Regions from separate parts of the Homo sapiens genome. Here all the other regions are reported to be linked to region 1. Evidence: microRNA targets listed by miRTarBase, many of them from high-throughput screens and not tested one by one. Region 1 holds a microRNA gene; each other region holds the end of a gene's coding sequence. Distances are from middle to middle.
What was found. Region 1 holds the annotated microRNA hsa-miR-6734-3p (CCCUUCCCUCACUCUUCUCUCAG, at 2,049-2,071, shown strand). A microRNA usually pairs through its seed, bases 2 to 8, with sites in the 3' UTR of a target mRNA and lowers its output. Matches are read on the target gene's strand: a 7mer-m8 pairs with bases 2 to 8, a 7mer-A1 pairs with bases 2 to 7 and ends in A, and an 8mer does both.

Region 2: miRTarBase lists STK25 as a target of hsa-miR-6734-3p. Seed matches in the 3' UTR shown: 7mer-A1 at 2,444-2,450.
Region 3: the mRNA of ATP2B4 is a reported target of hsa-miR-6734-3p. The part of its 3' UTR that is shown has no 7-base or 8-base seed match.
Region 4: the mRNA of CCN4 is a reported target of hsa-miR-6734-3p. Seed matches in the 3' UTR shown: 8mer at 3,713-3,720.
Region 5: miRTarBase lists B4GALT6 as a target of hsa-miR-6734-3p. Seed matches in the 3' UTR shown: 7mer-A1 at 1,332-1,338 and 7mer-A1 at 3,226-3,232.
Region 6: miRTarBase lists SPNS2 as a target of hsa-miR-6734-3p. Seed matches in the 3' UTR shown: 7mer-A1 at 2,862-2,868.
Region 7: the mRNA of RIMS3 is a reported target of hsa-miR-6734-3p. Seed matches in the 3' UTR shown: 7mer-A1 at 2,696-2,702, 7mer-m8 at 3,212-3,218, 8mer at 3,648-3,655 and 7mer-A1 at 3,653-3,659.

The regions. Positions count from the first base shown.
Region 1 is chr1:43,362,644-43,366,718 of GRCh38, reverse strand. It overlaps MIR6734 (microRNA 6734), which reads left to right and starts at 2,004; the gene lies at 2,004-2,071. It overlaps CDC20 (cell division cycle 20), which reads right to left. Exons shown (of 11, transcript NM_001255.3): 11 at 3,516-3,768. The coding sequence ends at 3,590. It overlaps ELOVL1 (ELOVL fatty acid elongase 1), which reads left to right. Exons shown (of 8, transcript NM_022821.4): 2 at 1,096-1,155; 3 at 1,343-1,533; 4 at 1,711-1,791; 5 at 1,925-1,981; 6 at 2,072-2,177; 7 at 2,259-2,395; 8 at 2,582-3,318. The coding sequence starts at 1,110. The coding sequence ends at 2,803. RefSeq lists an enhancer at 1 and a silencer at 319-408.
Region 2 is chr2:241,492,321-241,496,395 of GRCh38, forward strand. It overlaps STK25 (serine/threonine kinase 25), which reads right to left. Exons shown (of 12, transcript NM_001271977.2): 12 at 350-3,381. The coding sequence ends at 3,342. FARP2 (FERM, ARH/RhoGEF and pleckstrin domain protein 2) reads left to right here. Exons shown (of 27, transcript NM_014808.4): 25 at 609-716; 26 at 973-1,124; 27 at 1,688-2,521. The coding sequence ends at 1,805. Among named protein-coding and RNA genes, the nearest start is that of STK25, 14 kb to the right of the region's middle.
Region 3 is chr1:203,739,409-203,743,483 of GRCh38, forward strand. ATP2B4 (ATPase plasma membrane Ca2+ transporting 4) reads left to right here. Exons shown (of 21, transcript NM_001684.5): 21 at 138-4,075. The coding sequence ends at 446. All of the region lies in intron 1 of LOC102723543 (a long non-coding RNA gene), which reads right to left. Among named protein-coding and RNA genes, the nearest start is that of LINC00260, 11 kb to the left of the region's middle.
Region 4 is chr8:133,227,026-133,231,100 of GRCh38, forward strand. It overlaps CCN4 (cellular communication network factor 4), which reads left to right. Exons shown (of 5, transcript NM_003882.4): 5 at 386-4,075. The coding sequence ends at 685. Among named protein-coding and RNA genes, the nearest start is that of CCN4, 38 kb to the left of the region's middle.
Region 5 is chr18:31,622,316-31,626,315 of GRCh38, reverse strand. B4GALT6 (beta-1,4-galactosyltransferase 6) reads left to right here. Exons shown (of 9, transcript NM_004775.5): 8 at 1-33; 9 at 555-4,000. The coding sequence ends at 702. Among named protein-coding and RNA genes, the nearest start is that of TTR, 32 kb to the right of the region's middle.
Region 6 is chr17:4,536,429-4,540,503 of GRCh38, reverse strand. It overlaps SPNS2 (SPNS lysolipid transporter 2, sphingosine-1-phosphate), which reads right to left. Exons shown (of 13, transcript NM_001124758.3): 12 at 3,558-3,604; 13 at 1,469-3,051. The coding sequence ends at 3,562. MYBBP1A (MYB binding protein 1a) reads left to right here. Exons shown (of 26, transcript NM_014520.4): 25 at 20-156; 26 at 537-1,600. The coding sequence ends at 1,089. Among named protein-coding and RNA genes, the nearest start is that of MYBBP1A, 17 kb to the left of the region's middle.
Region 7 is chr1:40,623,235-40,627,309 of GRCh38, reverse strand. RIMS3 (regulating synaptic membrane exocytosis 3) reads left to right here. Exons shown (of 8, transcript NM_014747.3): 8 at 581-4,075. The coding sequence ends at 793. Among named protein-coding and RNA genes, the nearest start is that of RIMS3, 40 kb to the left of the region's middle.

The sequences.
Region 1 (4,075 bases):
TTCCCAGGAAGGGAAGAGTGATTGTACCCATTCTGAAGTAGGACAAACTGAGCAGTTATGGCCGGCTTAGGAGAGGATGCTGGGTGTGGATTTTCAGCAGTGCTTTGGGCCAGGGCTGGGGCTGGGGCTGGGGTCAGAGGAGGTTTCTGGCTCAGAATCTAGGACCTTAGCTCATCAGGCTGGTCCCACGTGGGTGGGTGGGTGGCGAGTCTGGGGCTTTACTTGGCTTTCCCAATCCTGGTGGGTCCTGCTCCCCCAGGCACTGACCTGTGGCCCGGACCCACCCTCCACCCCCTGCACAGTACAGCAGGGGCGGGCAGAGGGCGGGGCTGCTGCCAGATCTAGTCAGACAGGTGGAGCCGCCGGGGCAGGAGTCTCAAAGAGCCAGGCTCCAGGAGAGGAAGGGCTCTGCGAGAGGAGAGAGGAGAGCGCTGGAGAGGAGAGGCTGGAGGTGAGAGTCCCAGGAAAGGCAGAGGAGAATCGTAGGGACATAAGTGTCCCAGCACAGGCAAGGAGGAATCCGAGGATAAGGTTCTGGAGGGACAGAAGGGCCCAGAGAGGTGAGAGTCCTGGCAGGGACAGGAGGGACCCTGGGGAGAAGAGAGTTCAGGAAGGGTCCAGAGGGATGGGAAGAGGAGAGGGCAGGAGAGGAGAGATTGAAGGGGAGAATCCCTGGAGAGAAGAAAGACCCAGAGCTGGGGAGGTGAGGGACTCGGGTGAGGAAGGGAGACGGAGTTCAAGAGCTCCCTGTTGGTGAGAAGGTAAGATTCTCCAGTAAGAGACCTGGAATTGAGAGTTATCTTGTGGAGGAAGAGGGGAAGGGAGGCCAGGAAGTAAAACTGTGGAGAGGAGAGGAGAGTAAGGTGTGGAGAGGAAGGGTGGAACAGCTCTTCCCAGGCAAGCAGGATGTGTGGGGAGCAGATGCCTCAACCAAACTGCCTCCTCCCCCTAGTTCCCAGTAATTCCTTCCTTTCACTGTTCTGTCCTTTCTGCAATGAGGCATTGCAGGTGTCTTGTCTGGTTCTGTGTCTTATCTCTGTGGGATGGGGGTGTGCAGTGGGATCTGTCTGACATCCGCCCTCTGTACCTCCCCAGAGTCCTTAGCCAGGATGGAGGCTGTTGTGAACTTGTACCAAGAGGTGATGAAGCACGCAGGTAAGACGCTATCCACCAGCCCTTTCCTTCCTTCTTTCCCGGGATCCCTGGATCTACGGCTGTCTTCTAATGGAGAGTTCCTATGAAACCCTTGATCCTGTGACCTGACCTCATGTCTGTAGACCCTTCAAATGAAGACCCTTCGAACCCTGTGACTCTTCCTGATTCCTTTGACCCTTATTCATAGATCCCCGGATCCAGGGCTACCCTCTGATGGGGTCCCCCTTGCTAATGACCTCCATTCTCCTGACCTACGTGTACTTCGTTCTCTCACTTGGGCCTCGCATCATGGCTAATCGGAAGCCCTTCCAGCTCCGTGGCTTCATGATTGTCTACAACTTCTCACTGGTGGCACTCTCCCTCTACATTGTCTATGAGGTGGGCCCCTGGGATGCCGGGCTTTAATTTCTGTCAGCAGGATAAGGAGCAGGCCATAGAGCCAGAGCATGGCATTTCTCCTTTCCAGAGAGGTTCAGATCCATGTCCTCAGCTAGCGAAGGGGAGGGATGGCTGGGAAGGGAGAACTCTGGTGGTCTAATCCACATCCCTTCCCAGTTCCTGATGTCGGGCTGGCTGAGCACCTATACCTGGCGCTGTGACCCTGTGGACTATTCCAACAGCCCTGAGGCACTTAGGGTAAGTAGGGGCTGGGGCTAGGTCATAAGCAACCTGGTAGATATGACCAGTTTGGGGCCTGTGCTCAAGGCCCAGTTTAGGGAGGCTCTTAGAATAGTGTATGAGGTCCTAAGGCTATCCCAACTTCTTGCAGATGGTTCGGGTGGCCTGGCTCTTCCTCTTCTCCAAGTTCATTGAGCTGATGGACACAGTGAGTAGTTATATGAGATGTGAGAACTTGAGGGGAGAATGAGGTGGAGAAGCCCAGGTTCTGAATCCCCTTCCCTCACTCTTCTCTCAGGTGATCTTTATTCTCCGAAAGAAAGACGGGCAGGTGACCTTCCTACATGTCTTCCATCACTCTGTGCTTCCCTGGAGCTGGTGGTGGGGGGTAAAGATTGCCCCGGGTGAGTGGTGAAGGCCACTATGGGAAAGGGTGGGCACCAGAGGCTGGACTCTGCTGACCCTGTCTTATTGTCCACTCACAGGAGGAATGGGCTCTTTCCATGCCATGATAAACTCTTCCGTGCATGTCATAATGTACCTGTACTACGGATTATCTGCCTTTGGCCCTGTGGCACAACCCTACCTTTGGTGGAAAAAGCACATGACAGCCATTCAGCTGGTGAGGGGCTTGGCCTGACTTACCTATAACCATCCCCCCACATTCCTAGCCTGGATCCTGCCTTTATCCAGTCTGTCTCACCTTTGACCCCATCTCTCCCTACTCAACGTTTGTCTCTTTCTCTACCCCCTCTTCCCCTCTAGTCCTCTCACTATTCCCTCTGACCCTGGTCTTTCTCTATCCTAGATCCAGTTTGTCCTGGTCTCACTGCACATCTCCCAGTACTACTTTATGTCCAGCTGTAACTACCAGTACCCAGTCATTATTCACCTCATCTGGATGTATGGCACCATCTTCTTCATGCTGTTCTCCAACTTCTGGTATCACTCTTATACCAAGGGCAAGCGGCTGCCCCGTGCACTTCAGCAAAATGGAGCTCCAGGTATTGCCAAGGTCAAGGCCAACTGAGAAGCATGGCCTAGATAGGCGCCCACCTAAGTGCCTCAGGACTGCACCTTAGGGCAGTGTCCGTCAGTGCCCTCTCCACCTACACCTGTGACCAAGGCTTATGTGGTCAGGACTGAGCAGGGGACTGGCCCTCCCCTCCCCACAGCTGCTCTACAGGGACCACGGCTTTGGTTCCTCACCCACTTCCCCCGGGCAGCTCCAGGGATGTGGCCTCATTGCTGTCTGCCACTCCAGAGCTGGGGGCTAAAAGGGCTGTACAGTTATTTCCCCCTCCCTGCCTTAAAACTTGGGAGAGGAGCACTCAGGGCTGGCCCCACAAAGGGTCTCGTGGCCTTTTTCCTCACACAGAAGAGGTCAGCAATAATGTCACTGTGGACCCAGTCTCACTCCTCCACCCCACACACTGAAGCAGTAGCTTCTGGGCCAAAGGTCAGGGTGGGCGGGGGCCTGGGAATACAGCCTGTGGAGGCTGCTTACTCAACTTGTGTCTTAATTAAAAGTGACAGAGGAAACCACGGAGGCTGTGTGTATACGTATGTGAACAGAGGAGGTGGGGGAACACAACACGCTTAGCCCTGTCCACAAACAAGAGGGATGGATGGTCCAGGCTCCCACAGGACATATCTAGCTCTCTGATCCCAGTAGAGTAGAGCCCCTAGGAAGGCTGCTGGGACATAGGTCATGAAAGAAGAAAGGCATTAGCTGAAACAGATTTAAAAAAAAAACATGAAGGGAGACATGACTTTATTAGAAAAATAAAAAACAACTGAGGTGATGGGTTGGTCTTCAGCGGATGCCTTGGTGGATGAGGCTGCTTTTGGCTGCACTGGCCTTCTCCCGCTCCCGCCGCCGCGCAGGGTCCAACTCAAAACAGCGCCATAGCCTCAGGGTCTCATCTGCTGCTGCGGATGCCACTGTGGCCCCATCTGGGCTCATGGTCAGACTCAGGACCCGGGATGTGTGACCTGGAGCAAATGAGAACAGTACATACGAATGCTGATGCAGCCATAGCCATAAAGGAGGCACTGGGCCACCCACCTACCTTTTTGTTTTTTTTGAGACTTGCTCTGTCACCCAGGCTGGAGTGCAGTGGCGCAATCTTGGCTCACTGCAAGCTCCGCCTCCTGGGTTCATGCCATTTTCCTGCCTCAGCCTCCCGAGTAGCTGGGACTACAGGTGCTTGCCACCACGCCTGGCTAATTTTTTGTGTTTTTTAGTAGAGACAGGGCTTCACCATGTTAGCCAGGATTGTCTCTATCTCCTGACCTCATG
Region 2 (4,075 bases), not on the chromosome of region 1:
CCCTGACCTGGGCCCACCAGCTTATGGCCAGTCCAGGACACCTGAGATCTAAGCAGGGTCCTAGCTAGGCCCGCTCCGCCATCTTAGAGTGCAACCCCTGAATACCACCCTGAAGGCGGGAGGCTCATGTGAGCCCCATGAGCCCAGCCACTCCAGCGCCAAAGCCATGCCTAATCCTGGCAGAACAGATGCCACATGCTTAGGGACAGGGCTGCAGTGGGGCATCTTGTGTGTGCCTTTACTTGCCTCTCCCCCACCCATCATTTTAAAGAACCTTCCAGACTTGGCTCAATGTACTGTCTCTTAAGGTATCTTCTCTCTTCTGGCTGTTGGATGGGTTTGTGGATGGTTGGTTACTGAACACTGACTTTATTGTGCACAGGGAAAGGGAACTCACTTTACTTGGTGCCTGGAATGTCACTCTAGGTTTTTAACATGCTTCTGTTGGACTTAAGTACTGATAAAGCTGCTGTTCATAGCAGTCCAGAGGTAAAACCAAGGCCTCAGCTGGAGAAAGCATGCAGAGGCTTAGTCTTGGGGAGCAAACCCACTCCCACAAGGGGTCCTGGGTGCTGGTTAATGCACCTGCATTTTTCCTTTATTGACAGAACCAGCTTTCAGGATATCTGCTAAGAAAGTTCAAAAACAGTCATGGCTGGCAGAAGCTCTGGGTCGTCTTTACCAACTTCTGTTTGTTCTTCTACAAAACTCATCAGGTACTGGAGTTTCACTGGAGCCCAATGCAGGTGATGCTAGCAGACAGACACTTAACCCTGCTCACCTGTGTCCCTTTTGTATTTTGGTTCTGCCCTCCCATGCTTTGCCCACACACCCTGTGCTGTGTGAACAGGGAAACTGGCTCCCTTGGCCCGTGGGCATTTGTACGTGCCACCGTTGTGCAGGTAGCAGAGGAATGGGCATTCCCTGTGGCAACCCAGCCCCTGGAACCCGTGTCCCTATGCTGTCTTGCAGGATGACTACCCACTGGCCAGCCTCCCGCTGCTGGGCTACAGCGTGAGCATCCCCAGGGAGGCCGATGGCATACACAAAGACTATGTTTTCAAGCTCCAGTTCAAATCCCACGTCTACTTCTTCCGGGCTGAGAGCAAGTACACATTTGAAAGGTAATTTTGCAGGAGGCAGCCCTGGTCAGCTGCCCATTTCGATGTCCGCTCAGCTCCCATTTCTACTCATGGTGGTGGAGGCAAGTTTTCTGGGCCCTGGAAAGGAAGGGCTGAGCAATGCTTCCAGCATTTCCAAAAAACAGCAATGCTTTGTTTTTTTTTTTTTTGGAGATGGCGTCTCCCTCTGTCACTCAGGCTGGAGTGCAGTGATACAATCTTGGCTCACTATAACCTGCACCTCCAGGGTTCAAGCGATTCTTCTGCCTCAGCCTCCTGAGTAACTGAGATTACAGGCATGCACGCCACGCCGCCTGGCTAATTTTTGTATTTTTAGTAGAGACAGGGTTTCACCATGTTGGCCAGGCTGGTCTCGAACTCCTGACCTCAAGTGATCCATCTGCCTCAGCCTCCCAAAGTGCTGGGATTATAGGCATGAGCCACCGCACCCGGCCCCAGGTTTTTAACCCTTCTTTTGTCCTGCTTGTCCCATATCCTGGGTTGTTCTTGGGACAGTGTCTGAGCACAAGATGGCTCACTGGTCTGATGGCCGCCCTCTCCTCCAGGTGGATGGAGGTGATCCAGGGGGCCAGCAGCTCAGCCGGGAGGGCCCCAAGCATCGTGCAGGATGGCCCCCAACCCTCCTCAGGGCTGGAGGGGATGGTCAGGGGGAAGGAGGAATGACGCTCAACCTGCCCAGGTTTGGACACAACTACAAAGAACAGCAGGACACAGAGGTGACCTCTGTCCTGAGGCTTCTCAACAGATGGGAAGTGGCTGTGGTCTCACTGGATCCCCACTGGCACCAGCAGTGTGGGTGGGCCTCATGTAACATCTGGGAGGGGCTTCATCCCCCCACCCAGGACCTAGTGCATGCCAGCAGCTATCTGGGGCCCTGGGAAAAATGTGCGAGTCTTGAGCGCGGAGCCGCTCAAGCCACAGCTCCCAGGCCCCTGGCTCAAAGACGCAGACAAGGCCTGAGCAGTGCTCTCGGCATCGGACCAAAGCCTGGGCACACCCTGCCTCTCTCCCCAGAGCAGGGTCCCTGCCGAGGACTGGCCTAGAGCAAGCACTGGAAAAGAGGCCCTGCCATACACCCTGCGTACCCACTGCCAGGACCCTCTCAGACAAGCGTGGCACAGCCATGCTGACCTTCCATCTGGTGAACCAAGTGGCAGCCCCAGGGGCCTGCCCTGCAGGTCACAGCTAAACAAGTCTGGCAGAAGCCACGCTTGTTCCCCATGTACCTCTAGAGAAGCAGAAACCAAAGTCCCCCTGTGCCCTGGGAGGGTGGGGCCGTCTAATTTATTACTGCCCAGCATTCCTTCCAACGGGAAGTAGATGGGCGACTGCTTTGTTCACACACATTTGATTAAAAATAAACAAACAGCATCTCCCCACCTGCATTCTCCTCTGCCTGCTCTGTTCTTCCGGTGGGCCAAGCAGAGCCCAGGAATCCGTCACAGGGAAGTTTCGAAGGGGGGCTGGGCTGCCGTCTCTGCGTGCTGTGATGAGGACTCGGGACCAGGGACGCTGCAGCCCCGCATGGCCCGGGCCCCACCACACACACCTGCATGTCTCCAAGTCAGGTCTTTATTGAAAGTGGCAGGGGCCTCTCAATGTTCTATGAAAACTAACATATTAACCTCAGAATATTTCAGGAAACAAGTAATTCAATTTTCTTAAAAAACAAAACATTCTGGATGACACAAGTACTTATGAGCAGACACAGTACCTGATCCAACACCACAAGGCAAATCTATGGCCATCATGGGCCCCGGGAGGACAGCGGCCAGGACACTCCTCTGGGGGCTGCCCTGTTGCCTCTCCCCACCTCATGGGAGGAGGAGGCAGAGCTGCCCTGATAGTTGCTCTGCGCCTTGGTCTGAGCGGCCATAGGGCTGCATGAGTCTGCAGAAGACCCAGGCGTAGCTCATGAGGGCCACGCCGGCGGCTGGAGCCCCCGTGAGCAATACTGCTGGGCCAGGAGAGGGAGGAGGGCAGTGGGCATAGAGAACAGCGTCCCTGACGTGCACAACAGCACACTGCAGGGGTGGAAGGAGACGGTGACCTGGTGACCTGGCATGTGAGGCCCACGGGATCCGACGTGTCCCTGCAGGCACGACATAGCACAGGGCACCTTCCAAGTCAGCACAGTTCTTATGGAGCTCAGAACAAAAACAAACGACCTTCCGTCCCCTATCTGAACAGCAGTGCGCTTCAGCGGGTGGATGTCAGGTGGTTTCTGTTGTGTGAAAACCTGCAGAGAGAAGAGCCCACTGCTGCGTGCGTGCACCTCTGTGCCCAGGCTCCTGACGGCCTCTTGGGTGTGCAGTCTGCGGTGGCAGCCCTGACAAGCCACCGCACCACGTGGGTCTGAAGGTGTCCCCAATGCACAGGGTCTCAGGAGCAGCAATGACTGGCCCAGACCCCACCCCCAGAGCTGCTGCCCAGGGGCGCCGGGAAGGGGTCCCTGTGTGTGGACCAGGACTTGGCGCATCTGCCGGCGGCATGGCGGTTGGACCCTAAGTCCGTTGGGCGGTGGAGGGCCCAGCATCTGTCCTGCCCTGTCTCTTTGCTAAGGACTCGAGTCAGCACAGGGGCAGCTCTGACGTTTTGCCACCAGCGTGTCAGAGTAGCTCCCGGGAGCCACCAGGTGGAGGGGCAGAGGCCAGCTGAGGACAGCCATGTGGCCACTGAGGCCGGGACCCTGAGACACTGCCTCAGACCCTTAGACTGGAAAGGCCCTGCCCACTCTCTCCAGCCCCAAAGTCTCCATGGCCCTGTGAGCTGGGTCCAAACAAGGAAGAGGATGCCACGCCGCGCCTTCCCAGAGTGAAGCGAGCCCATGTAGTGCCAAATGCAGCCACACCCACGAGTGAGCACTGGACCTCACCCCACGTCCAGCTTCTTGGTGGGGGTGCTCTCCCCGACCCTATGGCACGGCCGCCCTC
Region 3 (4,075 bases), 160 Mb from region 1:
GTGTTTGGTTTTGATGCTGAGCAGTCATGTTTTATAGTCTGGGTTTTGTTTCTCTCCTAAATCCACCATCTCCTTGTTCTGCCGGCCAATTCTCACCTCTCTATTTTCTCATCCTCCTTTTCCTTCCCCTGGTATAGATCAAAGTGGTCAAAGCGTTCCATAGTTCCCTCCACGAAAGCATTCAGAAACCCTACAACCAAAAGTCCATCCACAGCTTCATGACCCACCCTGAATTCGCCATAGAGGAGGAGTTGCCACGAACACCACTCCTGGATGAGGAAGAGGAGGAAAATCCTGACAAGGCTTCTAAGTTTGGGACTAGGGTGCTCCTGTTGGATGGTGAGGTCACTCCATATGCCAATACAAACAACAATGCGGTGGATTGCAACCAAGTGCAGCTCCCCCAGTCGGACAGCTCTCTACAGAGCCTAGAGACATCAGTTTGAATTTTCTTTCTCTGACTCTCATCCCTATTTTACCTATTTCCATTTTCGTCTATCCCATCTATGAGGTGATGATGGGACTTTTCATTGTCACGTCAGCTGCTGTGTTAACAGCAGTGTGTGTGAAGTGAACCTCTACCTGACCATGAAGAGGCAAGAGCACAGACTTACAAGGATTTCAACTTAAGCTTGACTTGGGGTTTGTAGCGGGACCCAGTCAAACCCCATTCAGGTCATGGTAGAATCTACTCCTTGGTAGTCACTTGTCATTTTTAAAGAAATGATGACAATCCTCTTGGCATCACCCCACCCCACATTCTCCCCGATGTTCCTCTCCTGAATTCTGGATTTTGTCCTACAAGTCTGTGCCATTTATAAGCTAAGTTGAGGGTTCAGAGGGAGACAAATATCCCCAAGTGAAATATGTTGCGGTAGAGATGGAATGTATAAAATCCGCCAGTAGTGTGATTGTTTTTCAATTTTTCCCACTTTGAAAACTTACACCTAAAGGCCTGTAGGCCTCTAACTCTTTCTGCCCTTTCATTCAAACCTCTCCAAAGTTCTTTGTCTTTTGTCTTCCCTTCCTTTCCTTTTTTTTTTTTTTTTTTATGATGATTAAGAAAATGGAAAGGATATGGATGAATTGTGTAAACTTAGATCCTTCTCCCTTTTGGCCCAAAAGAACCCTTGATTTAGTTCCAGAATCCAACCAGTTTCTTTGTTAAAAGGGTCCTTTTGAAGCAATTAAGTGCTGGTAAGAATATTTCTCTGTTGTTGCCAGGTTACCTTCTGCTTTTAAATTGCCATCTTGTAAAGTGTATGTGGTTCTTAAGTGCCAGGGAGATCAGCCTTGCCCATGAAGGTTGCATATGTGTGGTATACAGTTTTTACCTGAAAGCCTGAGCTTTCTCTTATTCCTAAAGTGGTGGCAAAAGAATGAACTGGGTATGACCCTGCCCCCTTACTGGGCTTGGATATTGAGGACCAGACGCTGCCAAATCTAGGACAAGACAGACCATCAAAGCAGACTTTTGTGGGCTCCTCTTTGGGGTGACCACTGCTTTCAAAGCCATCTGCCAAGGCTCTCCAGGGCAGGACCTGACTGGTGGGGAATGAGTGTTCAGAAGCCTTGGGAGAGGCCAAAGAGCCATTCTAGCATGATCTGAGAAAACCTTCCTGCAGAGGCCAGAAACCTTGAGCTTAGGTGCCTGGGGACCAGCTTCGACATTCTCTCCAGTTTCTGATTCTAATTTTTGCCACGTGTCACAACTTTTCCAGTCTCTGAGAAGGTCCCAGCCTTTCTCAAATATTCTGATTTTGAAAATATGTATCCAAAGTGGGAGGCCCCTGTGACATTTTGCCAACTTAAACGAGAAAAAGACCCCCCGCACCCGGCACACTCCCCCTTCCTCCAGCCCCGCTTCAGCCACATGCTCCAGCTGCTGCCCAGTAAAGCCCTGTGCCTTTTTTTCCCCTGAATACTGCCCAAAGCATCCCCTTCCCATCTGCCTCTCAGGAGTTGGGGACTTTGCTAGGAGATTTTTTAAGTGTTCCTTACTGGGACAACGTGGAGCCACGTTTGCAGGAGCTCCATTTGTATCCCTGCTGGTGTTGACTTCTGTGTAGGGGCCAGTTCATGTCCCTGACTCTCACCTCCCATTAGATAAATGAAGCCCACCCCCCTTTCTAGAGTGATGAGAGTCAAGAAGAGGGGATGTATGAACGGCCAAATTCCCATGTGAGAGGAAGATGACCTGATCCACCTAGCCTTTTCTTCTGGATCTGTCCTCCCTCACCCCTTTCACCTGAGCTGTCCACAGTAGGAAACATAAAGAAACAATGTCCCCTACATATCCCCATGACTACATAATCCATCATCGTAGGAAATAGGAAAGCAAATTTGATTTTGGTTTTGTAAAACGTACATGCTTCAATAATTCTTTTTTGTGTCTTAAATACTCATAGGGGAAAAAAACAGCTCACCCAAGGTGTTAGGTTTCACATATATATTCATCAACTATTTTAGAAGATTTAATTCTATCAAATCTTGTATTACCTCAGATCATTTTAAATAGCAAGCCAATAACGAGCTTTGAAGGCTATTTTACCATTCCTGTTCACAAAAGGTTCTCATGGTGCCTGACAGGTTACCCTTGAGGGCTTGTGTCTACTTTTTAAAAGTCAATGGTTTTTTTTCTTGTGTTCTAGTTTCCATAATAGGAGAGAAAATATAGAAATATATGCAAAAATTATAGTTTTCTTTAGATCAGAAACTGATATTTTTGGGTCAGCCATATGTATTTTGTTTAAAGGATTTAAAATAAAGTGCCGTCATGTAGCCCTGTGGAAGGGAGCACATAACCAGCTGTTTGGCATGACAGGTGACTTAGTATATTTGTAATTGGTTTTAAAACCAATACACCATACTTTCTTTCTGCAAACAGCCATCTTTATACTTAGGGAAGAAAAATTGTTGGGTTCTAGACTTTTTTAATATAAATTTTGTTGATATGGAATTAGGTAAGTTTAAGTGTCTATGTGCATATGTTTTTTATATAAGTTTTTTCTATTCAGTTTCACTGATCCAACTGGCAGTGGGTAAATATGGCATAAGTTAATAACACTTTTCCCCAAAATGGTGCTTTGGATTTGAAAAGGGTCTGATGGGGAGAAGGAGAACGTATCATCCTAGCTTCCTCTCTTAATAAACCTAGAAAAACGGGTAGTAAACTGTGGATAGTCAGGAAAACACCCAGCAAGGGACACAGCTGTCAGGAAATGAATCTTCCCCCCAACCCCCACCATGCAGATGGATAGACAGAATCTTTCCTGACTAGTCATTAGGATCAGGGGCCTCTGTTGGATTTGTGTTTCTTGAAGAATAGCTGGCAGAGTGGTATAAAAGACACGAATATCTCCTGGTCTATAAGGATACTCTGATTTGGGGTTTGCATTTTTCATGGTTTTTATTTCCTGTTCCCCCTGGAGTTTTCCATTAGTGAGTTTTTGTGCAAGGATCTTATTTGTGATGCCTTCCCTCCCCTAGAAAGATTTTGTGCAATATATTAAATGGGGACAGAATTCTAAATGGATAAAACAATGGCTGGTTCTAGCCCTGAGTGACAGTCTTAAGGCTAGATCCTTCCCATAGTATCATCTGTCCTCTGGAATGACTCTCCTGTCCCTAAAGGGGTTAAGAGAGAGATCACCTAGAAATCCCTCTGGACACTTGTGGGTTCTTTAGGGTTTGAGTTTCTTCTTCCCCTTGAGCTTCAGAGAGGAGAGTTGGCATGGTTAAATCTGAATGGTTACCTCACTGCTGAAAACCCAGAGGGGCGTGGCACACTCGCTTGTGTGGAAAAGCCTCTAAATGCATCCCTTCCTTTCTTTCCTGCTTCCTTTGCCTTACAATTGAAGCAGCCCGTGGTACCATCACAGTATGCAGAGACTTCCTCACCTTTCATATCTAGGGACCACCCCCGATGCATTGGTGAGGGTGGGCACTTATAAATGCCTGCTATTGTTAAGCCATTCCAGCCTCTTCCTCTGAATAGACCAGACGCCCTTTCACTTAGTTCAGTGCCAGTCCTTTTGCCTTCCCAACCCTGCTGTTAGGCCTGCTGTTCCCTTTG
Region 4 (4,075 bases), not on the chromosome of region 1:
GTGGAGTCCCGATGCCAGTTCTGCCACTAGCTAGCCAGGGGAACTTGCTTGGATGAAGGAGCTACATAGGCTCCCCATGTTGGTGAAACCATGATGAATGACTGGCCATAGGCAAGACAAAAATGCAGGACAAAAGAGAAACTGCAGGCTGTGAGATACAACCCAAACAAAACATTTTTCTCTGTGGTCCTCCATTTACCCCTGTGCGGTATGCTGGATCTCACTGTGTTTGCTGTTGTCCCTCCTTGCTTGAGGATGCTGTGAAGCTGAAAGTAAGGTGGAATGCTCCCACATAGTGAGAAGGGAAAAACTGGGGGCTCAGGGGAAGAAGGTGGTTGTCCATTCTCTGAGCACTCCCACTGAAAGCTCCTTTCCTTTCCTTCAGGCAGGGAAGAAGTGTCTGGCTGTGTACCAGCCAGAGGCATCCATGAACTTCACACTTGCGGGCTGCATCAGCACACGCTCCTATCAACCCAAGTACTGTGGAGTTTGCATGGACAATAGGTGCTGCATCCCCTACAAGTCTAAGACTATCGACGTGTCCTTCCAGTGTCCTGATGGGCTTGGCTTCTCCCGCCAGGTCCTATGGATTAATGCCTGCTTCTGTAACCTGAGCTGTAGGAATCCCAATGACATCTTTGCTGACTTGGAATCCTACCCTGACTTCTCAGAAATTGCCAACTAGGCAGGCACAAATCTTGGGTCTTGGGGACTAACCCAATGCCTGTGAAGCAGTCAGCCCTTATGGCCAATAACTTTTCACCAATGAGCCTTAGTTACCCTGATCTGGACCCTTGGCCTCCATTTCTGTCTCTAACCATTCAAATGACGCCTGATGGTGCTGCTCAGGCCCATGCTATGAGTTTTCTCCTTGATATCATTCAGCATCTACTCTAAAGAAAAATGCCTGTCTCTAGCTGTTCTGGACTACACCCAAGCCTGATCCAGCCTTTCCAAGTCACTAGAAGTCCTGCTGGATCTTGCCTAAATCCCAAGAAATGGAATCAGGTAGACTTTTAATATCACTAATTTCTTCTTTAGATGCCAAACCACAAGACTCTTTGGGTCCATTCAGATGAATAGATGGAATTTGGAACAATAGAATAATCTATTATTTGGAGCCTGCCAAGAGGTACTGTAATGGGTAATTCTGACGTCAGCGCACCAAAACTATCCTGATTCCAAATATGTATGCACCTCAAGGTCATCAAACATTTGCCAAGTGAGTTGAATAGTTGCTTAATTTTGATTTTTAATGGAAAGTTGTATCCATTAACCTGGGCATTGTTGAGGTTAAGTTTCTCTTCACCCCTACACTGTGAAGGGTACAGATTAGGTTTGTCCCAGTCAGAAATAAAATTTGATAAACATTCCTGTTGATGGGAAAAGCCCCCAGTTAATACTCCAGAGACAGGGAAAGGTCAGCCCGTTTCAGAAGGACCAATTGACTCTCACACTGAATCAGCTGCTGACTGGCAGGGCTTTGGGCAGTTGGCCAGGCTCTTCCTTGAATCTTCTCCCTTGTCCTGCTTGGGGTTCATAGGAATTGGTAAGGCCTCTGGACTGGCCTGTCTGGCCCCTGAGAGTGGTGCCCTGGAACACTCCTCTACTCTTACAGAGCCTTGAGAGACCCAGCTGCAGACCATGCCAGACCCACTGAAATGACCAAGACAGGTTCAGGTAGGGGTGTGGGTCAAACCAAGAAGTGGGTGCCCTTGGTAGCAGCCTGGGGTGACCTCTAGAGCTGGAGGCTGTGGGACTCCAGGGGCCCCCGTGTTCAGGACACATCTATTGCAGAGACTCATTTCACAGCCTTTCGTTCTGCTGACCAAATGGCCAGTTTTCTGGTAGGAAGATGGAGGTTTACCGGTTGTTTAGAAACAGAAATAGACTTAATAAAGGTTTAAAGCTGAAGAGGTTGAAGCTAAAAGGAAAAGGTTGTTGTTAATGAATATCAGGCTATTATTTATTGTATTAGGAAAATATAATATTTACTGTTAGAATTCTTTTATTTAGGGCCTTTTCTGTGCCAGACATTGCTCTCAGTGCTTTGCATGTATTAGCTCACTGAATCTTCACGACAATGTTGAGAAGTTCCCATTATTATTTCTGTTCTTACAAATGTGAAACGGAAGCTCATAGAGGTGAGAAAACTCAACCAGAGTCACCCAGTTGGTGACTGGGAAAGTTAGGATTCAGATCGAAATTGGACTGTCTTTATAACCCATATTTTCCCCCTGTTTTTAGAGCTTCCAAATGTGTCAGAATAGGAAAACATTGCAATAAATGGCTTGATTTTTTAATGTCATTTTTCCCTCTTATAGTCTTTCTAGCTCCTTTTCAAAAGACGAGAATATCTGATTTTCTGATAATTTAGGTGCTTAAGCATCCAAAATACATGGGACACACAAAAATCCAGGAATCCCCTGTAGCTTATTCCCTCTTTCCCATCGGAACCAGCTCTCATCACACATTTAAAAGATGATTCTGTTTACCCAATGCTGCATATTGAATGTTGTGTAGTTATTCACAGGGAATTCTGTGCAGTGTGCAGAGAGATTCCTAAACGGGAAAAGGACTGGGAATACATCCTCCTTACTGTGACCTCCCCAAAACCTAGTCCAGTGCAAGGTATACAGTGGTGCTCATTAAATACTTGATGAATACAGGAAGCTGTGCATGTGTTCCTACTTTTATTCGAAGCTCTCTTCTTCCAAAGCTACATGAAAATAGAATTTTAACAGTCAAAATTTTATATTAAGTGCCTTAGCAAAAGAGACATTTAATATTTCAAAGAAATGCATATGTATGTATACATATATTTGTGTATGCGTATGCAAGAATTCTTGTATAAAGAGAATTCACTCCATGAATGATCTCTTCTGTAAGTCAGTGTGAATCATGTTAGATTTTCTGAGAGTGAAAACACCTGCCATCTACAAATTACAAGGCTGGATAACAGCTCACTCCATTTGAAATTCAGTGGAAACCCAAGAGCTAGGTTCTTACTGAATTTGCATCTCAATTTGGGAAACTGAACTTAGCTTTCAAAGATCATAGGAAGTCTGGTTGGAGAAACTAGGGATTATTCTGGCAATGGGTGCAGGAAGGTGGTCAGAATAACCCAGTCGCCATTGGTTTTGAGAAACGGAACTATCTTATGCAGAGCCCGGAGGGCAAGTCTCAGACCCATGGGTTGAAGCCATGGAGAAGGAAATTTGGATCCAATGTAATGAAGCGCTTTCTAAGTCAGAATTTCCCTGCAATGGTGTGGCCTGATTCAATAAAAATTAAGAATAATAAATATAATGGAAAAAAATCTCCACTGATTGAGTGTTTACTTGGTGCCAAGCACTATGCTAAGTTGTTCATTATTTTATTTAATTGTTACAGCAATTTTGAGTATGCATCTTTCACTATTTTATAAGTGGAAAAGAGAAGTGCCCCCAAAAAGTTAGAGCTCAAACAGCAGCTTATTCTACCAGCCCCTGCTCTTGCGGAGGCCTCTGGAAAAGACCTGAATGACACCTATTGGAGAATTACATCTACAAGGGGCTTCAAACAGACCAAATAGATCATCACCTCTGTGGTCCCTTGTTAACTATATGTTCTGAGACAAAGGAAAGCTACCCTAAGGGTTAGTTAACCTTTGCTGAGGAAATTTACATTCATACTTAGAGTGAATTACTCAGGTGTGCTTAGGTGTGCAAAAGGGAAGGAGACCTGAATTCACCAAGTTAAATCTTGCTAAACCTTATCATAAGCATTTTTTGAGCGCTTAGCATACACCAAGCCTTGTGGAAGGTGCTTTCCTGCCATATCTCATTTAATCCTCACAGCAAACCTATAGAATATGGCATTATCATCTGAGTCTCACAGAAGTTTAGTCGTGTACTCAAGGTCTTACCAGCTAGTGAACAGCAGACCAAGACTGGAAACCCAGGATAGTCTGATACCTGAGCCATCTCTTCTTGTGCTACGCCTAGTTATTCTGTCCCCCAAATCAAAAGGCATGACCTTTATAAGAGGCGCTTTACTGACAATAGCTGCAATTTTAACTTTGAAAATGATTCAG
Region 5 (4,000 bases), not on the chromosome of region 1:
TCACCATAGAGGTGAAGTCCAGTTTTTAGGACGGTAAGTTGAATGTCATCTTCAGATACCAAGGTTTCCAAAGCTGTTGAATAAATGAAAGGTAAATAAAAATGCATTGAACCCCAAAAAAGCTGCTGAAGGGAATTTTCATAATGGAAGGGAAGTATTTTTTGCTGAAGGGAATCTTTACAAAAGGAAGCATTTTTGATGCTTGTTTTTAAGAGATATACGTATATATACATTAATAAATACACATATTTACGTTAAAGAGCCCGGTTAACTATTTATGTAAAAGTATTTACGTAACATAAAGCATAATGTTTTATTTATTAAAGATGTCTAATTGTAAAAGTGCAAAATAATTTTTTCAGGTGGCATTTCTTGAGTAGTAAAATTGCTAATTTAGAATAATGGTTTAGAGATTCTTAAATTATGCACAAGAACCAGAAATTGTAAAGGGCATTAAGTGCTTTAATTATAAGATGACCTTGAACACAGTCCTTATCAGTTTTCCTTTTTGAACATGTTTTGTTGCTTTTTTGTTTTTTCCTCTAAAACTATAGGTATAAATTACTAAGGTATTCCAAGGAGCGTCAGTACATCGATGGACTGAACAATTTAATATATAGGCCAAAAATACTGGTTGATAGGTTGTATACAAACATATCTGTAAACCTCATGCCAGAGTTAGCTCCAATCGAAGACTATTAAAAGAAGTGGCTGTCGTGGCAAGGTAGACCACAATGCTGGATCATAAACTTGGAGCGCGCTCTTAGTGGAGGTCAGTGATTGGCTGTGTCACAGTGCCCTTTTCTCTGAGAAGAGCCAGCAGTCCACAGTGTTTACAGAGTGGGACTATATACAGTCACCCTTCTCTCACCCGTCCTCCCTGCTCTGAGACACACCCCTGTGGCGAGCACCGCAGAAACGGGAAGCCACTACTTAAGATCGGAAGTTAAGAGAGCTCCCTCCGAAGAGAAAATTTTTATACTAAAATCTATAATTTAATTCAAGAGAATGCTTTTATTTCCGTTTAAACATATTTTGTATATATGTGATATAAATTAATGTGTGCAAATTGTTTAAAAATTAGATGTGTTGCAGTTTTGCATGTAATCGGTTATACCTTTATTGGACTTTTATAGACATTTTTTATTTGCATGAAAAAAACTCACTAAATTTACATCACTAAACAAAGGTTAACCCTTGTGTGAAATGAAGGAACTGTCAATAATTGACAGCCAACTAATACAGTAAACTGTTATACTAGTTTTGAGCTTTAGACCTCAGCCTTTTGTGTGGAAGAAGTCACAGCTTTCTTAGGCTTTAAAGGAAAAGAAGGAAGGACTTAAATAGCTTTTCTTCCTACCGGGATTACCTATGTTTTTCCTTGCTTGCAATCTCATCTGATTTTGCTAGAAATCACAACCATATTGTTTATGCATATTGCATGAGTATTACCAAGAAAAATCTTAAAAGTTGTGATGTGACATGATATAAAGGATCTCTTTATGTTAAATGTCTTTCCATGTACCTCTGGTGTGTCAGGGATTTTGTGCCTCAAAAAATGTTTCCAAGGTTGTGTGTTTATACTGTGTATTTTTTTTAAATTCACGGTGAACAGCACTTTTATTATTTCCAGTTCAGAAGAGCCAAAAAAAAGTATCTTCATTTAAAAAGAAATCAAGTCAGTTTTTTTAAAAGAATGATCTATGGAAGAAAACCCAATAGTACTTATAATATACAAATGAATTATACTATTAGATAAGAATTAAATATTCTATTTTTATAAAGATAAATACTTAGTAGATAAAAACAAATTTTAAGTTTAGTTTTCAGACATAGAATTTCACTTTTGGAGGGGACCCTTGAATGTTAGTTTCATTCAAACTATATTTTGTTTTTTTCACTTTTAAGAGATTATATCTCTGGTGTTAATTACTAAAATTTTCTTTCTAAAAGTATAATTTAATAGAATTATCTTAAAATACATGATCAGTATTCAGTGCGCTGATATTATAATGTCTTCTATATGTAGTATCTAAAAGCATAATTTAATAGCATTGTCTTAAAATACGTGATGAGTTATTTGGTGCACTGATGCCATAATGTCTTCTATATGTAATATCTTACATGTTTGCATGAGTGTCAGGGCTTTGTCCAGTTATCTTCATATGACTGTTCTCTGAAAAAAGGTCTTACTACCTGATATCAAGTACATATCTTAATTTTGGATGAATTTTTCCACAGTAAAGCCGAACAGTATTCTTTTTTGAAAATTAGCAATTATAAAGATTGTTTAAAATATCTTGATATTTTCACAAATTTTAAACAAAAAATTAAATATCTATAAAGTGAATGTTCAACAACAATGATGAGCAATAGAAATCTATATATGAGAAACGTTTGGATAATATTTGCCTCAAGGATTGTTTACCTAAAACAGAACTATGGTTATTTATCTCAGATTGTAAGTTTTATTTTGAAGTGTCATTTTTATGGCAATATTGATAACACAAATGACCACAAACTAAATCATAAAATAATTGAATCCTTACACTTTGAGAAAATGGATAGCTTCTGTGTTATGATACCAAACAAAATATTTTCATATTTATTTCTTAGAACTATTTCCAAAATATTTATATTTCAGTTTTTTTATGGTACTCGAAAAATCAAACCTTCTGAAAATTATGATATTTGTACTTCATTTGTGTATTAGTTCATTTTCTGTTTCTATTACATAGTTTTTAAAGTCAATGAAAGAGATTGAGAATGTTAACATTTGTTGATCAATGTGGAGCTGTCCACATTCGGTATCTTTTCATTTTTATATATATTTTACAGTTTCAAGAAAACTTAGTACTACTAGTATCTGCCTTATTTTCTTAAGTCTGATGTTAATTTTTGTTTCAGGAGTGAGATATAAACATTTTGCTTTTTTTCAGTTTTGAAATATAGTTTGTCATCCTGTGAAAACCACCTCGTTTGCTTTTTGTTTGTTTGTTTTGCTTTTTTAGTGTAGACCTAAAATTATTTTTGCCTATAAACAGTGAACTTAATATGTTTCTGTGAGAGTGACAGAGCTGTGCCCGTTTATCTTCATTGTATTAATTATTACATAAAGATTAACAAATACATTGCAAATGCAAATTATAGGATGTTTGGAGGATTTATTAATGAGCATGTATTGATTGCCTATTCCATATCCAGTGCAATGCTAGGTATGTCTATGGAAGGAGTATTATTACTTCATTTCTAAACAAATGAAGTCAAGCAAATTGAGATCTTTCTGAAATTATGAAGACATCTTCTGATAACTTATCTGTTGTATTTCCTAGTCTCAAAGTCAAGAAACCCGTATATGTGGACCTAGGGCTAATAGGAGGTCCCTATGGCACTAACTGGGAAAATTACATGGTGCTTTTCAACTACAGAAAGAAGTAATGACTAATGGGCCTGTCTGTAGAGAAGAAAAGGAGAAGAGTACACATTTGCTGGAACTATATATAATTCACAGTGGAGATAGTTAATTCTTTGCTAAAACTAGGGTTTTATGAGTATTTTTTAAATCTACATTTAAGTTTTTGTTTTTGTGAAAAGTTATTCAGTAAGAAAACTTTATAATATTAAGTAGATACAGTTATGTATTAAAAATTTCCTTATATACCCTTTTGCCAGCCAAGATACTGATATTTTAAAACAAAATGGAAAAATGTCCAATACAATATTCTCTTTCTGGAGGCTTCCTACAAGTGAAAGCAGATTTTGTCATTTTATTTGGCCTTTGCTTGTCTTTGATATATTTCTTTATGTGTTTTTCAAATACATACTGTTGTAGATTTATTGTCTTGTATTTGCAAGTATGCCGGTTGAGAGAACTAAAATGGTTATAGTATTGTTTATCAGAAAGAGGAAGTGTACTTAAGATTATTTTATTTATTTAGATGAAAGGCTTCTACATAAATGCACTGAAATAAATGCTAGTAATTTCTTGTATCCCACTTCT
Region 6 (4,075 bases), not on the chromosome of region 1:
GCCTTCCCACCCTCTGCAGAAGCTGACCTTGGACCTGACGGTGCTCCTGGGTGTGCTGCAGGGGCAACAGCAGAGCCTACAGCAGGGGGCACACTCCACCGGCTCCAGCCGCCTGCACGACCTCTACTGGCAGGCCATGAAAACCCTGGGAGTCCAGTAGGTTCTGGGAGGGGGACACACACCTTGGGTAGGGGCTGGGAACACCCTCACGCTGCTGCACACACACACACGCTGCACACACGCTGCTGCACACGCACACTGCACACGCATGCTGCTGCACACACATGCACTCAAGCGCATTCTCAGATGTGGGAGCTGTAGGACCCTCACAGGACCCTCGCAGGAGCCTCGCAGGACCCTCGCAGGACCCAGGGGCCTCGCAGGACCCTCATAGGACCCTCACGGGACCCTCATAGGGGCCTCACAGAACCTAGGGGCCTCAGAGGACCCTCAGAATCCAGGTGGAGGTAGCAGTCGCGGTGGCGGTGGCTGCTGCCCTCGATGGGCACCTTCTAACCTTGCTCACTTCCCTTCAGGCGCCCCAAGTTGGAGAAGAAGGATGCCAAGGAGATCCCCAGTGCCACCCAGAGCCCCATCAGTAAGAAGCGGAAGAAAAAGGGATTCTTGCCAGAGACGAAGAAGCGCAAGAAACGCAAGTCAGAGGATGGCACGCCAGCGGAGGATGGCACACCTGCAGCCACCGGCGGGAGCCAGCCCCCCAGCATGGGCAGGAAGAAGAGGAACAGGACAAAGGCTAAGGTCCCAGCCCAGGCAAACGGGACGCCAACCACCAAGAGTCCAGCCCCTGGCGCCCCCACCCGGAGCCCCAGCACCCCTGCCAAATCCCCAAAACTGCAGAAGAAAAACCAGAAGCCGTCCCAGGTGAATGGAGCTCCCGGGTCCCCCACGGAACCTGCAGGCCAAAAGCAGCATCAGAAGGCTCTTCCCAAAAAGGGGGTCTTGGGCAAATCACCACTGTCCGCGCTGGCACGGAAAAAGGCAAGGCTGTCTTTGGTCATCAGGAGTCCCAGCCTGCTTCAGAGTGGGGCCAAGAAGAAAGCACAGGTGAGGAAGGCAGGGAAGCCCTGAGCACAGGTACGGGCCCCCCTCAGCCCCTGCCTCCATCTGCCTGAGACGCCTATTTTTTTTTTTTTTTTTTAAACCATGATTTTAATACGCAAGCTGTTTCTAAGGCGCTGCCACTGGGGAGGGTGGCTGTTGCCGCCTGCCCGGGCATCCTGCTCTGGCAAGCACAGCCTGAGCCATTCCTGCAGGGGTCCCAGGGTGCAGAGACCTCCCCACCCCCGGTTCTGGGCTGGGACCCTGGCTCCAGGGCCATGTCCAGGGCTCTGGTGTTTGCCTGGGTTGGTGCAGGTTGATGTGCTGGCTGCAGGCAGGTGTGACCATCTCTCGTGCCTGCCACCTCTTTGCCCCCAGGCTTTTTTGCTGTGAGGGAGCCACCAGGGGGTGATTTAAATAGGTTTATTTCTTCATTTACAAGAGGAATATATTTGGCTTCTCTCTTAAGACTCTGAGATTCACAATCAGCAGCTCTAAAAAATAAAGGAGCAGTTTGGCTTCCGGAAGGAAGAGGAGGCAACACTCGGACCTGGTTCTTGTACAACAAGAAAACATCGCTGGGGCCCCGCTGAGGCTGGAGTGGGGGTGGAGGCTGGTCTTTGGAGGATGCCACCCCCACCCCATCCTCTTGTCAGGCCCTCGGGGTACCCCAGAGCTTGGTGGGTGAGTATTCCACCTGCTTACACACCACTGAAGCCACAGCCAGCCAGTAACTAAGGGGCAAGAAGAGCATTGTCCAAGCTGGCTCTTGGGGGGTCCCCCATTGGCCACAAGGCCTCACCCCCCACCCCACCCCCGCACCAGAACCACCTTGATTGCAGCAGAAGTGCAGGGAGTGGGTGACGCAGGGGGCTAAGCTCCCCCAAAGCGGGTTGGGGCTGGTGTGAAGTTGGCAGCTGCATCCTGGTGTGTGCATGGATGGGAGGTGGGTGATCGAAGGCCTGGCCCCCCCCTGGGGTCACTTGGTGGAATGCCAGCAGCCAGTGTTTGGGTAGGGGCCGCCTCTCCCGGGGCCTCAGCCTCAGCTCTGGGGCAGGAAGCTTTGTGGATAGCTGCTTCCTCCAGCAGCCGGAGCCCTGGCTACTGCCCCATGGATTCTGGGAATGGTCTCCTGGGCCCTGCCCCTGGAAAAGGCTCAGCTCAGCCTCGGGGAAGGAGTGGGGTCCTGGCTTGGGGGGTGGTGGCAGGGAGAGAAGCCCTGCAGAGTTGGGCTGGTGTGCACCTGCCAGAGACCTTGAGCCTGGGGGCACAGGTGGTGTACAGCTGCAGCCAGGGCCTTCACCCCTGGTGATGCCAGCTTGTCAGAACAGTCCCCATCTGGGACCTCCAGGCTGGGAGCCAACCCGAGACAGTGAGACAGTGTCCTCCAGGGAGTACCCAGAGACTTGGGCGCCCAGCTTCATTTGCCAGGTTGCGTCCAATATCCCCAAGGTCCGAGGCCCAGCTGAGCAGTGGTCCCTGCATACCAGGCCCTCGCGTGAGCCTCAAAGCCGGGACTGCCGCCCTGAGGCCTGGGCCACCTGCTCTCCGTATGGTCCAGGGTCTGTTGAGTCTTCAAAGCTGCAGATCGTGCTTTGCCCAGCAAGTTGTGTGGGAAAGTCCAGCCCCCTGGCCCTTCGTTCCAGGGAGGGCAGGGACTTGCCCAAGATCACATAAGCTGGTGGCAGGCCAGGCTCTCCCCGGACACCCACTTGGGGCTGTCTTCTTCCTTGGCCCCAGGGGCCCTGCGGCCCAAACCTAGGGCTGGGAACCTGTCCAACCGTGTGGCTCCAACACACACATCCTTCCAGGGTAACTGAGGACACAGCCTCTTCTTGATGCCAGGGCCACTCAGCAGGCCTGGGCCAGAGAGGGTGGGTGCCTAGCCGTGGATCACACAGAAAGCTTTGGGGCAGCCCAGCCGGTCCCGGACGCTGTAGGACACCTCCCAGACGAGGTGGGAGTGTGGGTTCTTCATTGTCCCAATGGCACCTGGGGAAAGGGGTGTCAGGTCAGCAGTGGGGCTTAGTGGGGCCTGTGCCAAGGCTGCCCTCCCTCCTTCCCTTTTCTTGCTGTTTGGAGACGCAAGCCTTCTCCTGGACCTGCAGCTGTGACCCTGGGTCTCGTGCTGCTGGGAAGCTATAACTCCCAGAGGGAAGGGCCAAGGAGTCAGGCCCTGGTACATCCAGGAGGATTTGGGAGAACAGAAGTCCGGACAGAGTGAGGAGTTCCTGGCCAGTCCTGGCCCTGATCTATGCGAGGCCCCACCCAGCCCTTGAAAGGAAGGAAAGGGGAGCTAATTTACTGGAAGGAGCAGCCTGCTGTCCCACCCATGGCTCCATCAGTAAATTCTGGCAACATCTTCAGAGACAAAGCCCAGAGTTGGTGGGATGTGCTGGGGTAGGAGGTGACTCTGGAGGAAAAGTGCTCCCTGTTGCCTAACCCTGGCCTTCCCCTTTCCTTAGGGAGCCCCCACGTGCCTCCCGGCCTGCACTCACCACCTCAGACTTTCACAGATGCGGGCGGCATCGCCAGCTGGTTCACCCTGGGGGAGAGACGGGCGGGGGTCAGGGTGGTGCATCAGCGGGGGCCGGGCCCGGGCACTGCTCTGGCACATCGTGTCGTGGGGGCCAGCTGACCGGAGGTGCTGGGCAGGGACCTCGTCAGCCCCAGGGGGAGATGGGAGAGCCCAGGGGTGGGGAGAGGAGAGAGAGAGGAGTAAAGAGGAAAGGAGAAAGAAGTCAGAAAGTAAGAGGAAGGGGAGGGGCCCCAGCTTTGAAAACCACTAAGTCCAGAGACAAACCCAAGTCTGGATCCACCAGACACCCCCGTGGCCTCCCACAGCTCCAGGCTGACCCTGGCACTGGGCCTCAGGGCTGGACCCCAGCAACCAGTGGGTGCACTGAGTGCATGGGAGGTCTGTACCCTCCCCGCCCCACCCCAGGGCAGGGCTCACGGTGGCTATCACGGTCCCTGCTTCCCGGCGGTGCAGCAGGGCCTCCCCTCCCCCCCACTC
Region 7 (4,075 bases), 2.7 Mb from region 1:
TTGCAGTGAGCTGAGATTGCGCCACTGCACTCCAGCCTGGGCAACAGAGTGAGACTCCATCTCAAAAAATCTCCCAGTGGTGTGGCTGGAAACACTGAGGTCCAGTGAGGGCATGGAGCTTACACAAGTCCCACGGCAAGCCAGCAGCACAGCTAGAGCTATGGCCAAGTCCTGAACTCTCAGTTTGCCCCTTCCTGGGGAAGGCTGTTATCTGAAATGCTGGGAGGCTCTGGAGTCACACACCCAGGTCCTAATCCAAGCTCTGCCACAAGTTACTGTGCAACTTTAGGTTAGCTAATTAACCTTTCTGAGCTACAGTTTCCTTCATGGAAATAATGATACAGAGCACCCCTACCTACATGGCTTGTTATAACAATTGAAAGAAAGAATCTAGGTAAAATCCATAGGATCGTATCTAACACACCTCAAGTGCTCAGTAAATTATTGTGTGAAATCAGTCTTGAGTTCTGGCTCCCTCTGCTCCATCTGTGCCCTGCTGAAACGTGTAGGTTCCTAGGCCTGCTGCACAGTCCTGGAGTCAGGGAGGTGGCTCACTCCCTCCCTCTCTTCCTCCTGGCAGGTGATCGTCTGGGGAGACTATGGCCGCATGGACCACAAGTGCTTCATGGGCATGGCCCAGATCATGCTGGACGAGCTGGACCTCAGCGCCGCGGTCACCGGCTGGTACAAACTCTTCCCCACCTCCTCAGTGGCAGACTCCACACTCGGATCCCTCACCAGGCGCCTGTCCCAGTCTTCCCTGGAGAGTGCCACCAGCCCCTCATGCTCTTAAGGATGTCAGGAAGAGGCCAGGATGGTGGTGTGGGGAGGGGTGCCTGCTGGCCCCATGTCCTCCCCTGTACATAGTCTTCGTGTCTTTCTGGACCCCTTGTCCTGCTGCATGCCTGTTGGCTACTGGGCTCATCCCAGCTGGCAGTGGAGACTGTAGTGTGTGCGTGTGTGCGTGCGTGTGTGTGTGTGTGTACGTGACCACGTTCTATCTGTTCATTTGTCTGGGTATAGTCACTCCTGGTGATGATATGGGCTGAAATGTCTCCACGTCTCTTTGTGTCTTGTTGAAAAGAAACCCAAAGGAGTGTTGTGTGGACATGACTCACCCTGAGGAGTCTCCAGGGATGGAGGTGGGGCATGCGGCCACTGGTCGGTGCTGCCTGGTCCTGGCCTGGGGCAGAGCCTGTGTGTTCTTCACCTGTGCCTGCTCCTGGTGGTCTCTGCTTTGTTTTCTGTCTTGTCTTTTGTTCCACTCTTGACTCTCCCGGCTCTGCCACTGTTTTCTGAGAAATGTAGCATCCGCTGCAGCTGGCCACACTGAGGGCCCTCTGGGAACCCCACCCCACTGGAGCCGCTCCGGCAGCTCTTCCTGCCACTGAATGCGTTCTGCAGCATGTAGCATGCCCACCTAGCTCCCTGGCCAGGGCCCTGGGGAGGCAGAGGGTACCCAGGGGACTGAGGGCTTAGAAATGACTTTCTCTATGAGGCTGGAACCTCCTCCTTCTTCCAGTGAAGCACGAGGTCTTGGTTCCAGGGTTCCTGGCCAGGTGCCCCCTTAGCATTTGTTCTTCATCTCCTGTCTCTTCAAGCCTCCCCACTCCACCGTGCCGAAGGAGCTCTGCCAGTGGGCCTGGGCAGGCAGCCACAGAGGGCATGTTATCTGCTAAAGCAAACAGTCCTCCTGAGGCCCTGAGGGTGGCCCTGACCCCCTCAGGGCTCATTCCTGGTGGGCATGACTCGGTAAGGAGGTTCTGTGGGTAGGGCTGTTTGCTGGAATAAGGAGGGCTGAGGCTGAGTTGTTCCCCGCCACTGTTGAGGATCCCATCTGACATTTGGGGATTCACTGCATGAAGTTGTTCATTTGGGGCTCCAGTTTTTGTGCATTTCCAGACCAGGGTCCCTGTCTGGGAGCTCAGACTTAGCTGGGCTCCAGCAGCCTGGCTCCGGACTCTCGTCTGCCACCATCACCAGCTCTGTCTAAGCAATACTTACCCCTCCGGGCTTCCCTGCTTTCCTGTGCCCCACTGCTGCCCTCTGCAGAGCCATCTGCTCCAGGCACCCACCTGCCTCTGCTTGCTTTCTCACCCATGTCTGGTTGGAGCTTCTCACAGCCACTCAAACCCTGACTTGATTTGACAACTGGGCCCTGTTGGTGGAGACCAGTGCCTGAACTGGACCCTGTGAAATCTGTCCCGTGGGAATCCTGAAGTCTGACTCAGGAATGCCCAGACCTGTCCCTGTCCCTCCTCAGCTCTAGGGTGAAAGGCGAGAGGTTGCACAGGACATGGACAGAGCAGCCCTTGGGTTTGTATCTGGTAGGGGAGAAAGCAGCAGGACAGTGGAGGTGTGTGGAAGGCACTCTTTCCACCTCTCTCCAGGCATTATCCCCAGGTGCTGAAATGGCTGTGGCCCCAGCACCTGAGGCAGGGGTACGCTACCTGGGGTAGCAGTAGAAAGGTCTTGGGGTCTGAATGACTTGGGGCCTCCATTCATAACCAAAGTTGTAGGGGCATGGAGGCAGTGGCGCCTTATGGATAGGTCATCTCAGCCCAAAGGGCCTCCTTGGCTGGCATGGTTCTGTGTTACGTTGAAGCCAGAGTCTTATAACACCTCCCAAGAAAGATAGGGGAAGAAGCCAGAACCCCACCTGGCCTGCCCACAGGACAAGAAGTGGGTAAGGGCAGGAAGGAAATGAACGGAGTTAGCTCCCAGGCTCCTATCTCTGCCTGAGCCTCTATTCTTATATTATCAGAGAAAGGGACCATTGGGTGCATAGAGATGGGGAGGAGGCCACTGGGCTGAATTTTCTCTTTAGGCGGAAATGCTCTCCCCAGGCCCATTGCGTTCGTCAAGTTCTTGGAAATGGACAAAGGGCTCTGTCCTCCTCGACCCTAGTGGGGGATCAAGAAGGAAACTCCGTTGCAAAAGGGTATTTTAATCTCCTGTTTATGATATATTCACCTCTAGAGCAGTCACTGTCAGGGTGTTGCGAAAATACTCTACACCTTTGGGATGATAGGGTTGTTAGTGACCCACAGGACAGTATAGATGTTTGTGGATGTAGCACTGAGTGGTGATACCCAGACCAGCAGTCACCCCAGGAAGTGGGGGCTACCCATACCCTCATTCCTCTGGTGGGGAGCTGCCTGCAGAGAGGCCTGCCACTGGGGGTTCCAGGCCGTGGTGACCCTTGCCTCTGGGGAAGGGTTAGCACAGGGGAGGTTCTAGCTGGAGGAGGGGTCTGATGTGCTGGTAACTTGGGCTGACCTACCTACAGTCCCTGGCTGCCAAAACTGCTCAGCAGTTGGGCCACTCCACTATTCCACCTCTCTAAAAGAAGGTAATTTCCTCCCCAAATTGACCTTGGGGAATTATTCTTTTAACCCTTTGCACCAAATAAGTTACTCATCCCCACCTGGATTTTACCCCATGAGGGTAAAGTTGTGTGAGGCTGACACGTCTGTGTGATGCAGTGTGGCTGCACTTAAGGGTCTGTTTCTCAGCATCATGGATGCAGGGGCTTGTCTGAAAAGCCACTCTGGACCTAGCCTGTCCCAGAAGAGGAGAATGCACAAGTGTAACTCCTGGTTGTTTGCTGGGGTGGGGGAGCATCTGCTGTTTGAGGACGGGGGGTGGGGAAGGAAGGAACATGATCCCTCCAGAAGTCTCCCACCCTGGGGCCAACTCACTGCCATGTTCAGTGTCCCGGCTCCAAATGCCCCCTTGCCCAGATGAAACCCTGCAGTGGTTACAGGAATGGAGCTCTTTGTCATTCCACCTCCTCTGGTCAGGCGAGGTTCACTGTGCATATGGCAGAGACAGGAGTGGCCCTGCAGTGATGTTGGGTTGTGGGCAGGGACAGTGATGGATGACTCAGAGCGTCTGTCTTTGTATTTCTGCTCTGTTCATTCTGTCCCACTTTCTTCATAGACTCCTTTTCCCTGCAATGGGTTTTTGGTATGAAAAAGGCTCCAGTAAATGGAGCCAAGTCTTGGTTTGACAAGGGGAACTTGATCCTTCAGGGAAGAATCATCTCCAAAATGACTCCCCATCTGGTTTCTTC